3 separate regions of the Homo sapiens genome follow, and all the other regions are linked to region 1. The links come from fine-mapping of genetic effects on gene expression. A gene starts in region 1. Each other region holds a variant in brackets. All regions are shown on one strand. Distances are from middle to middle.

Evidence for each region. PIP is the estimated chance that this variant, and not a neighbour inherited with it, causes the effect.
Region 2: its variant is fine-mapped to the expression of ZFP36L1 in whole blood (TOPMed, PIP above 0.99). The same link has a PIP of 0.9 or more in blood mononuclear cells and monocytes.
Region 3: its variant is fine-mapped to the expression of ZFP36L1 in whole blood (TOPMed, PIP above 0.99).

What each region holds. Positions count from the first base shown.
Region 1 is chr14:68,791,780-68,794,582 of GRCh38, forward strand. ZFP36L1 (ZFP36 ring finger protein like 1) reads right to left here and starts at 1,288. Exons shown (of 2, transcript NM_004926.4): 1 at 1,103-1,288. The coding sequence starts at 1,159. RefSeq lists silencers at 1,446-1,515, 1,536-1,735.
Region 2 is chr14:68,680,139-68,682,811 of GRCh38, forward strand. The region is part of intron 2 of RAD51B-AS1 (RAD51B antisense RNA 1); the gene reads right to left. It also overlaps a transcript of RAD51B not described here. Among named protein-coding and RNA genes, the nearest start is that of RAD51B-AS1, 4.0 kb to the right of the region's middle. The variant A/G (reference allele first, on the strand shown) is at 1,272.
Region 3 is chr14:68,597,265-68,600,067 of GRCh38, forward strand. It overlaps a transcript of RAD51B not described here. Among named protein-coding and RNA genes, the nearest start is that of RAD51B-AS1, 87 kb to the right of the region's middle. The variant G/T (reference allele first, on the strand shown) is at 1,690.

The DNA.
Region 1 (2,803 bases):
AAGGAAGCTGAAAAATTCAAACTTTTTAAATGCTACTCTTCAGCTCCTCGGCGTCCCTGCACCCCAACCCTGCAGCCCTGGGGCGTTGGCAGCTGCACCAACAGGAGCAGCAAGCTGGGAAAACAGAGCAACATGACCCGACGTGTTAAGAGAAGGCAAAACACTTCAGCAATTAAAAAGTAGCCCAGCAGCTTCACCCTTTCAAATTGGGAGGGGGAGGTTGGAAAGAAATTTAACAACATCCATAGACTTTTGCTATGTACATTTAAACCGCAGTCCTGGAACATTCCGAGTTTAAAACTTGCTTTTTCAACACTGGCTGACAAGCAACATGTTTTAAGGAGCCCCCCATTAAATCCTTACTCGCGGGACTCTCGAGTTCAAGCCAGCATTTTGTCGCCACCTCCCCCCCCAACCCCGCCCGCAATCGATGAGCCGCAATGCCTCGGCAACACAGGTAAGCGGGTCAACCTGAATGCCTCTTTCACCCCAAAGTTTGCTGCACGATCGGCTATCGCGGGAAGAAGCCCAACGGAGCTAGGGCGGACTCAAGCCCCACTGCAAACTTGTTCTGCAACATCTTTTTGAATCACAACTTGGCCTTTCTTCCTCGCATATCCCCAGCTCCCCCCAAAGAGTGGAGGAAAACATTGTCCCGAGACTCACTTCCCCGAGGGACCTCCCACTCCCAACCCCACGGGTGGGTAATGCCGCTGGACAGACCTAGGGCGCAGACTGGGAACCCGATCAGACCAGCAAACCTGGGATCCAGCAGCACGTTACGTAAAACAGGATCGCCCAAAACTTGTCCCAATCCCAGCCCTCCCCCCGAAGCCCCCGGGCTGCCCTGCCAGGCAAACTTCGCCCCTCAAAACCCTGGCCTCCAGATTCACATGTAATCCCCGCCAGCAACTGTTGAAACTCAAAGGGTGGGAAGGACGGGGCCAAATTCCTTCAAACTTGGGAGAAATGCCGGAGGAGAAAAGAATCATCTCGCTGCACCACTTTCCCCATTGCCTTCCAAGACCCAAACTTTTGGGGGTTCTTTCTTAAGGCAAAAGAAAAAGACTTTTTGAAAAGCAAATGCTCCGCCCCCCTTTACCTTGCATAAAACTTCGCTCAAGTCGAAGATGGTGGCAGACACGAGGGTGGTGGTCATCCTGTGCGTTCGCGCGAGCCAGGGGCGAGGATCTGGTGTGTCGCGAAGGTCCCGGTGCGGGGAAGGCGCAGCCTCTCCTGTCTGGAGTCCCACACGCCAGTTCCCGGCGCCCCTCGCCTTTCTGACTCCGGGCTGGGGCGCGCAAAGCCCAATTTATAAAGTTCAGATTTGGTGGGCCGGGGGGAGGAGGAGCTTTAAACTTATTTAAATGAGGAAGAGGAGGAAAAAGAAGTTGATTGACACTGGAGTTGAATCAGCCATGCGGTCAGGCGGGGAGGGGGGGCAGGGGGAGGAGAAGAAACTTTCAAAAGGAAGAAGGGGGAGGGGAGACGAGAAAAGAAGGCGGAAAAAAAAAACCCCACTGTGAGCCGCGCACAACTTTTTTTTTTTTTTCTTTAAGAGGAAAAGTTTCAAGTCGGCTGACTTCCCTACCCGGCGCTTCAGGCGCCCCCTCTCCGGGGCCGCGCGGGCGCAGAGCGGGAGGGGCGCGCCCCCTCCTTTGTCAGCCTCAGAGCGCGGCTGTGACGTCACTCATTCCACTCCCTCCGGGGTTCTTGTTGTCATGTTGTTGTTTTTTGTTGGGCAGGAAGGCGGGCTCGACTTTCTCTTTTTGCCAGCGGGAGCTGAAGCCCGTCCTTAGCGCCCGGGCCGCGGTTTCCATCTTGAGCTGGCGGTCTCCTTGAAACTTCCCCAAGTGTCTGCACAACTTACCTTTTCCCGACTTCTCTTCGACACTCGGCTCCCTTCGGCAAACCGGGCAGGCCGAGGACATTAGAAATTTGGGACGCACAGAATGTTCAAGCCTAGGATTTTATGTTGCTGTTTTTTTTCCAGCGGGGCGTAGGGTGGGGCGCGCTGCTGGGGGGACTAGGGAAACTTTTTCCCCAGGAGGACATGGTCTGGCGGGGGCGAGCGCGGCACAATTTAGTGCGCCGCACGCGTCGACACTCGCGCTCGCTTTGCAGCCGGCGCTCTCCGGGTGTGGGCGGGTGGGGGGCGCCGCAAAAAAAGACCACAACCCGGGACGATTGTTTGTTTTACCAGGCCTAGGCGTGCCGTTTCTTTTCACGCATCCAATCTTTAAACTTTTTAGTCAAGAAAACCCTAATCCTTCCTGAATGCCCCTTCCTCCCAGAAAAAGCCCACCGAGCAACTCACTACTTTCCACGCGCGCTCCGAATTCTGGGCGGCGCCACAACCCTCCCTCCTCCTCCATCCTCCCCACACACACCTCAAGACTCTAGAACAATGAAAAAAGGTTACTTTGGTAAGAATGAAGGTAAAGAGGTGGAGGGAGGCGGCACTTTTAACTTATTGTTGCTTCTCTCTCGCCCCCACCGGAGTGGAACATATGGCTTGTCACGCTGCGCCGTTTTGGCGGGAGGTGGAGAGGGGGACATGGGAGCCACGAAACCGAAGGGCCCGCAATGGAGCATGACTCCCTTGAAAATGATAAAATATATACTGTTAGGTTTGGATGCCGCCCACCCAAATAAAAAGTTAACGAGTCCCCCACCCGCCCCCTGCGCCTTGGCCCGACTGCTGGCGTGATGACCCAGGCGGAAGTCGCAGGGCTGCGCTTCTTTCCGATTTCCACGCGGGCTCCGCCGCCCCCCTCGGCCCTCGCACGTTTCTTCCCAGCAC
Region 2 (2,673 bases), 110 kb before region 1:
CTTTTACGTCTAATCTTACTGTATTAACATTTTCTCTAGCACTTCCATAAGTCTAGATAATCAACACAACAATAAATCAAGCCCTGAGTATAGAGTGTGCCAATTTCTGTGGTGTAAATATTCTCACCACGGCCAATTTCAAGCTACCAATGTGATGTTACTGACTGTGGAATTGGGAAGAGAGTCAGTAGTATACTACGCTACAGTCTTCCCACCATATGTGTAATAAACATAACTCAAGCACATAGATGATAGTAAACTGTAGTTTAAAAAAATTAGGATCTGATCTGTTGTTAGTATTTATTACCTTTTTAAAATATAATTAATTATATGTTTATATCATTTAATTTTTAACAATGGCTGTGTTCCACAGCCAGCTTGCAAAATTCCTGAAAATTTACCAATCAGCTTTCACAAGCCAATGCAAGCTTCAGCACACCACCGTCCCGTTCCTCTTCCCGTTAGCCCAGATGGGTCCCATGCTATCTGATGGCCACACCCTTTGTTAAATAGCTCCAGTTAGTCCTGATCCACGCAAATCAAGAGAACATTAGTCAATGCCCAGTTTCTCCAAATAAACAACGTCAACAGCTTCAGTCCAGTGGAGTGACTTAATGATCTGTTTCCTTCAATAAACTGTGATTTCTGAACTCAATTCAGATACCTGAGCGTCGCAGTAAGCTGAGAGTGAGGCCCAGAGGCGTTCATAATGTAATATACTAAGTTTAAACTTGGCAAGCAGATGACATTGTGAGAAATGGCTTTTTTTAGGCCGATTTTGGGAGTTTGGGGTGTTTTTTTAAGAGTTAAGCCAAGGCAAAAAAATAACCCTTGCAACACATCACTTCACAGCTGGTCAGCCCAGGAGAGGCTATTCTGGGATATTCAAGCTAAAGAACCTCTTTTTAAACTCCAGGCAAACTGGAATCAGGATGCAGGGTTTTTATTTTTGTCTGTCATGGATTTACTCTGTCCAGTAATCCTGTACAGTAATCTCTGTCCAGTTTGTTCCCTGGGTGGGCCTCAGTTTACCTTCTGGAGAAGTCAAGTCAGCTGCCTTTACCTAGGGCATTATTCGATTTTTGAATTGTGGAGACTGAAAAAAGATAGTTGCTAGGGTTTATCAGAGGGTTTGGAGTGTCTACTCGAGGTGTTCCAAATCAGCGGAGAGTCAGAGAGGGGTGAAGTTGAAGTAGGATCTTATAAGAAATGACAAATGAACAAGATGTAAGAGAGAGGAGGAGGAAGAGGAATAGGAAGGTGAAGGAGGA[A/G]CAAGGGCCTCCAAGCAACGTACCATGAAAACATCGGGCAAGTGGCTAAACTGTGCGTCCAGTGTTCACTTTGCTAAGACGGAGAGTGAGGGCATAAGATGATTTAGTTACAGAAGAAAAGGCAGGCAAGATGGAGCAGGCAGGTGCCTTTTGTCTGGGTTTGACAAGAGAGTTTCCTGGGTAGGGAAGGAATGTGATCAAAGTTATGATTCTAAGACCTGCCTGGAAGATGACCAGGGAGTGGGCAAACTTGGAAGCAAAACCAGCCTCCCAAACACCTGTGTAATATCGTGTCCTGGGCCACTGTATAAATAACCTCCCTCCTGTTCATCAGTAGGCTTTGTAGTTCTCAGCCTCTCTCCTCTGTTGAAAGTGTGAGCCAGCCCTTTGCATGAAGAAGCATTAGAAGGGATCACTGCATACTTCTTTAATTGTCAAGAATGCATACATGCCATGCATATGAAAGATATAGTGGACTTTGGGGACTGGGGAGTGGAGCAGGTTGGGAGTGGGGTGAGGGATAAAAGATTACACCTTGGGCACCGTGTACACTGCTTGGGTGATGGGAGCATCAAAATCGCAGAAATCACCACTGAAGAACTTATCCATGTAACCAAAAACCACTCGTACCCCCAAAAATATTAACATTAAAAAAAAGAATTCCCACCGTGCCTTAAACTTATGTCATCTCACTTTTTTTTTGTCAGCAGCCTAGAGGGAAGGGGACACAATCCCAATTTTAACACCAAAGCAACTGAGACCTACAGATATTAAATTACTTGCTCCAGATTACAACTGAGACTCAAACCCATCGCCTGGCCACAAGTCTGGTGCCCTATCTACACCAATCTGTCTCCGGTAAACCTAACTAGCTAGTCAACTTTTCCCATCCATAGGCCAGACACCTTTTGAAATAACAAACCATCTGATCTCTAGAAAAACTGAAAGGCCAGTTCCAGTTGTCAGACACACCAAGCTCGAGAGAGTCTCTCCCAAAAGTTCTCTGGAAAGCCCAGGGATTCCGAATTCCAAAGCCAGCCAAATTTGAATTTCCTCTATAAAGAGATAGTCCCTCCTGGTTTAGAACATAACCTTCCTCATTAGGCTGGTTCCATGTTTTGTAATAACTTTTGCTTACACCACAAAATTGTCATAGATTACGAAAACACAAAGGCCTTGGAAAAAAGGCCCAGAGCCCCCTGGAAGTCATTATTTCTTCCTTTAGCAATTGCTGAGTTAAGCACCATAAATATGGTTCCCATCCTGCTCCCCTTCCCCCGCCCTCCCCGCCCCCCACGATCAGCTGGACATATGTTAGGAAGAAAGCAGGGACGTGGGGGTGGAAGAAGATTCGCATGTCGTGAATCTTGAGCACTGAAAAGAAAAAGTGGGGAGAGGGCGG
Region 3 (2,803 bases), 190 kb before region 1:
TGGGGAGTGGCCAGATCAGTCCCAACACTGAAATTGTTTACTGTCATCCACTCCTGGTTGTTAGGGGACATTGAGGATGACAGGATAGAGAGTAGGGAAGGAAGGACCAGCCAAGGAACATTTTCCCTATAAAATGAGACTCCCACCCTACTCCTGCCCTTGTTAAGACTTCATACACTATGGAATACTATGCAGCCATAAAAAGAACAAGATCGTGTCTCTTGTAGGAACATGGTTGGAGCTGGAGGCCATTATCCTTAAGAAACTAATGCAAGAACAGAAAACCAAATACCACATGTTCTTACTTGTAAGTGGGAGTTAAATGGTAAGAACTTATGAACACAAAGAAGGAAACATCAAACACTAGGGTCTACTCATGGGTGGAGGGAGAAGAGGAGGGAGAGGAGCAGAAAAGATAACTATTGGGTACTGGGCTTAATACCTGGGTGATGAAATACTCTGTTCAGCAAACCCCTGTAACACAAGTTTACCTATGTAACAAACCTTCACATGTACCCTCCAAACCTAAAATACAAGTTAAAAAAAAAAAAAAGGACACAGATGTAAATTGACCCTGATGGAGAGAACTCTACTCTATCCTTGCCAGGTCACAAGAAGGTGAGATATTTACTTTTCAAATGATTGATGCTGAAATGGAAAGGACTGTATCTCGGGGGCACAAACCCAACAGAGTAAATGAAGATCCTACTGCTTCAGCTCCTGGGATTTGTTAAAGTGGGGACCAGCTTAGAAAAATAGACGGCCGTCCTAGAGACCCATGGCAGTCTCGGTCTGATTTTAAATCTAAATTCTCAAGTACAAGTAGCTTCCCAAGAAGAGAAAGCTACTTCTACATAAAGAGGTGGTATCAGTAGGAACTCCTTAAGCCTTACCTTTTTATTATTGATGATGATGAAGTGAAGCTTCCTGTTGATATCATTGTCAGACCAAGCACAGCACACCAACTCAAACCTCATTCATTCATTCATTCATTCATGTGTCCTTTTAACAGACGTCTACTAGACACCTTGTGTGTCCATGAACCAAATACCATGCTTAAGACCAAGGATTCAGAAATGTGTTAGCTGTCATTCCCCCTCCAGGAACTCTCAGCCAGGAGGAGATGTACTCAGGGAAAAGGAGAAATCACAGTATAACCATTGTAAAATCCTTTCTGATAAAATCGCAGAGTGTCTAATACTCCTGTTCCACATACATAAAAAGAAACTAAAGTGTAGAGAAGGGAGGAAAGTCCCGAATTTAGTGTGTAGCAGATCCAGGAGTAAAACAAGCATTCCTCGGTCTGGGGTAAATCCCACCGGGACTGTGTTGAGACCCAAATTCCTCTGAGTCCACGGGCCCCTTCAAGTCAGATGAAATTCCAAACAAGCCAGAGCCTAGCTGAACAGTTCCACGGTGCCGGGCTCCAGTGTGTTCTGGAAGGTTCTCGTGGGCTGTGCCTCCAGAAGACGGAGGCGGGGAGGAGCCCCACAGGCCCAGGGCAGTGTCAGGTTCCCCCTTTTCTGTCAGCAGGCATGGAAGAGCCTTTAAGAAAATGGAGTATTATTATTATTTGTTTGTTTTTACAGTGACTCAGTCTGTAGTAACTGGGTTAAAGTCCGCTTTGAGAAAAGGAGAACAAAAGACCTCCTGTTAGTGCTGGAAGTTTGCCTCTTAAGATATCACTGA[G/T]AGGAACTGGGAAGAAAAAAAATCCCCAGCAGGGCAGAGGAAGCTGCAGGCCTTCAGGAACACAGCAGCACTTTGGAAAGGAAAACACGGCCGACTTTCATCTCCTGCGCCGTATCTGAGCTGGCCGCTCCCTTTGCCGCTGCTTTATGGCCCACTGCGGTGCTGACCGTCGGACATCGGCCAGTACCCTATTCCCACACTCTTTGAACACAGGGGGCTGCCAGGAGTGGTGGTAGTGTGGGCATATCTCCATAGCCAACCAACCCCAGGCTGAGGAGGAGGGAAAGGATGTTGCCATACGAAACATACTACGTGCTGGACGTTATTCTAACATTACATATCATAACTCATTTCGTAAACACCAAGGAGGCTAGCATCCTCCTTCTCCAGCCACAGCAGAAGTTGCGCAAGGTGGAAATCTGGCCCTGCCCTGTTTAGGAAACTCATTGCAAGTAGAGGAACCGTGGGGTGAGTAGGCTCCCAAATGGGTAGGACCAGATTGCTAGGTGGTCTCTTCCAGGTTGCAGACTCAGGCCATCTGACTCTAAGACCTAAGAACTTAATCCTACTCTCTTCAAATGAAAACAGAAAGTCAGAGGAAGACAAGAAAGTTTTTCTTCTCACGACCTCCCATCAGATCCGCCCCATCTACATTAAACTTGTACCCGTGTCCTTCATCAATCAGCTCAGTGGAAATGTTATTCTCACCCTTGGCCACCCAGATCAGGAAATCGGTCTGGACCATGAGTGACATGCTGGTGTTGGCCTTCTTCACCATAACTATAAGAAGCTGGAATGTTCCCCTCCAAGGCTATGAAAGAAGGATGGAGACAAGAAGGAAAAGACAGAAATTCTGTGAAAGTCTCAGGTCCTTCCTCCTTTCGGAACCACTTCACATAATCCTCTTCCTCCCCAGGGGCTCCCGAAAGATTAGGCTTCACTTGCAGGTCCCAGGCCCTGGTCCTGCAGAGTGGTTGGGCCTTTGGGGTCTCTCAGAGAGCCTAATCATTCTGTTTTCTGAACAAGTCATAGTTTTGCTGACTTCTGACCAAACCCCCATCGAAACCCAAGAGTGGAAGTGTGATTGTGGTCATCTATACCCTGTCCCCCTACA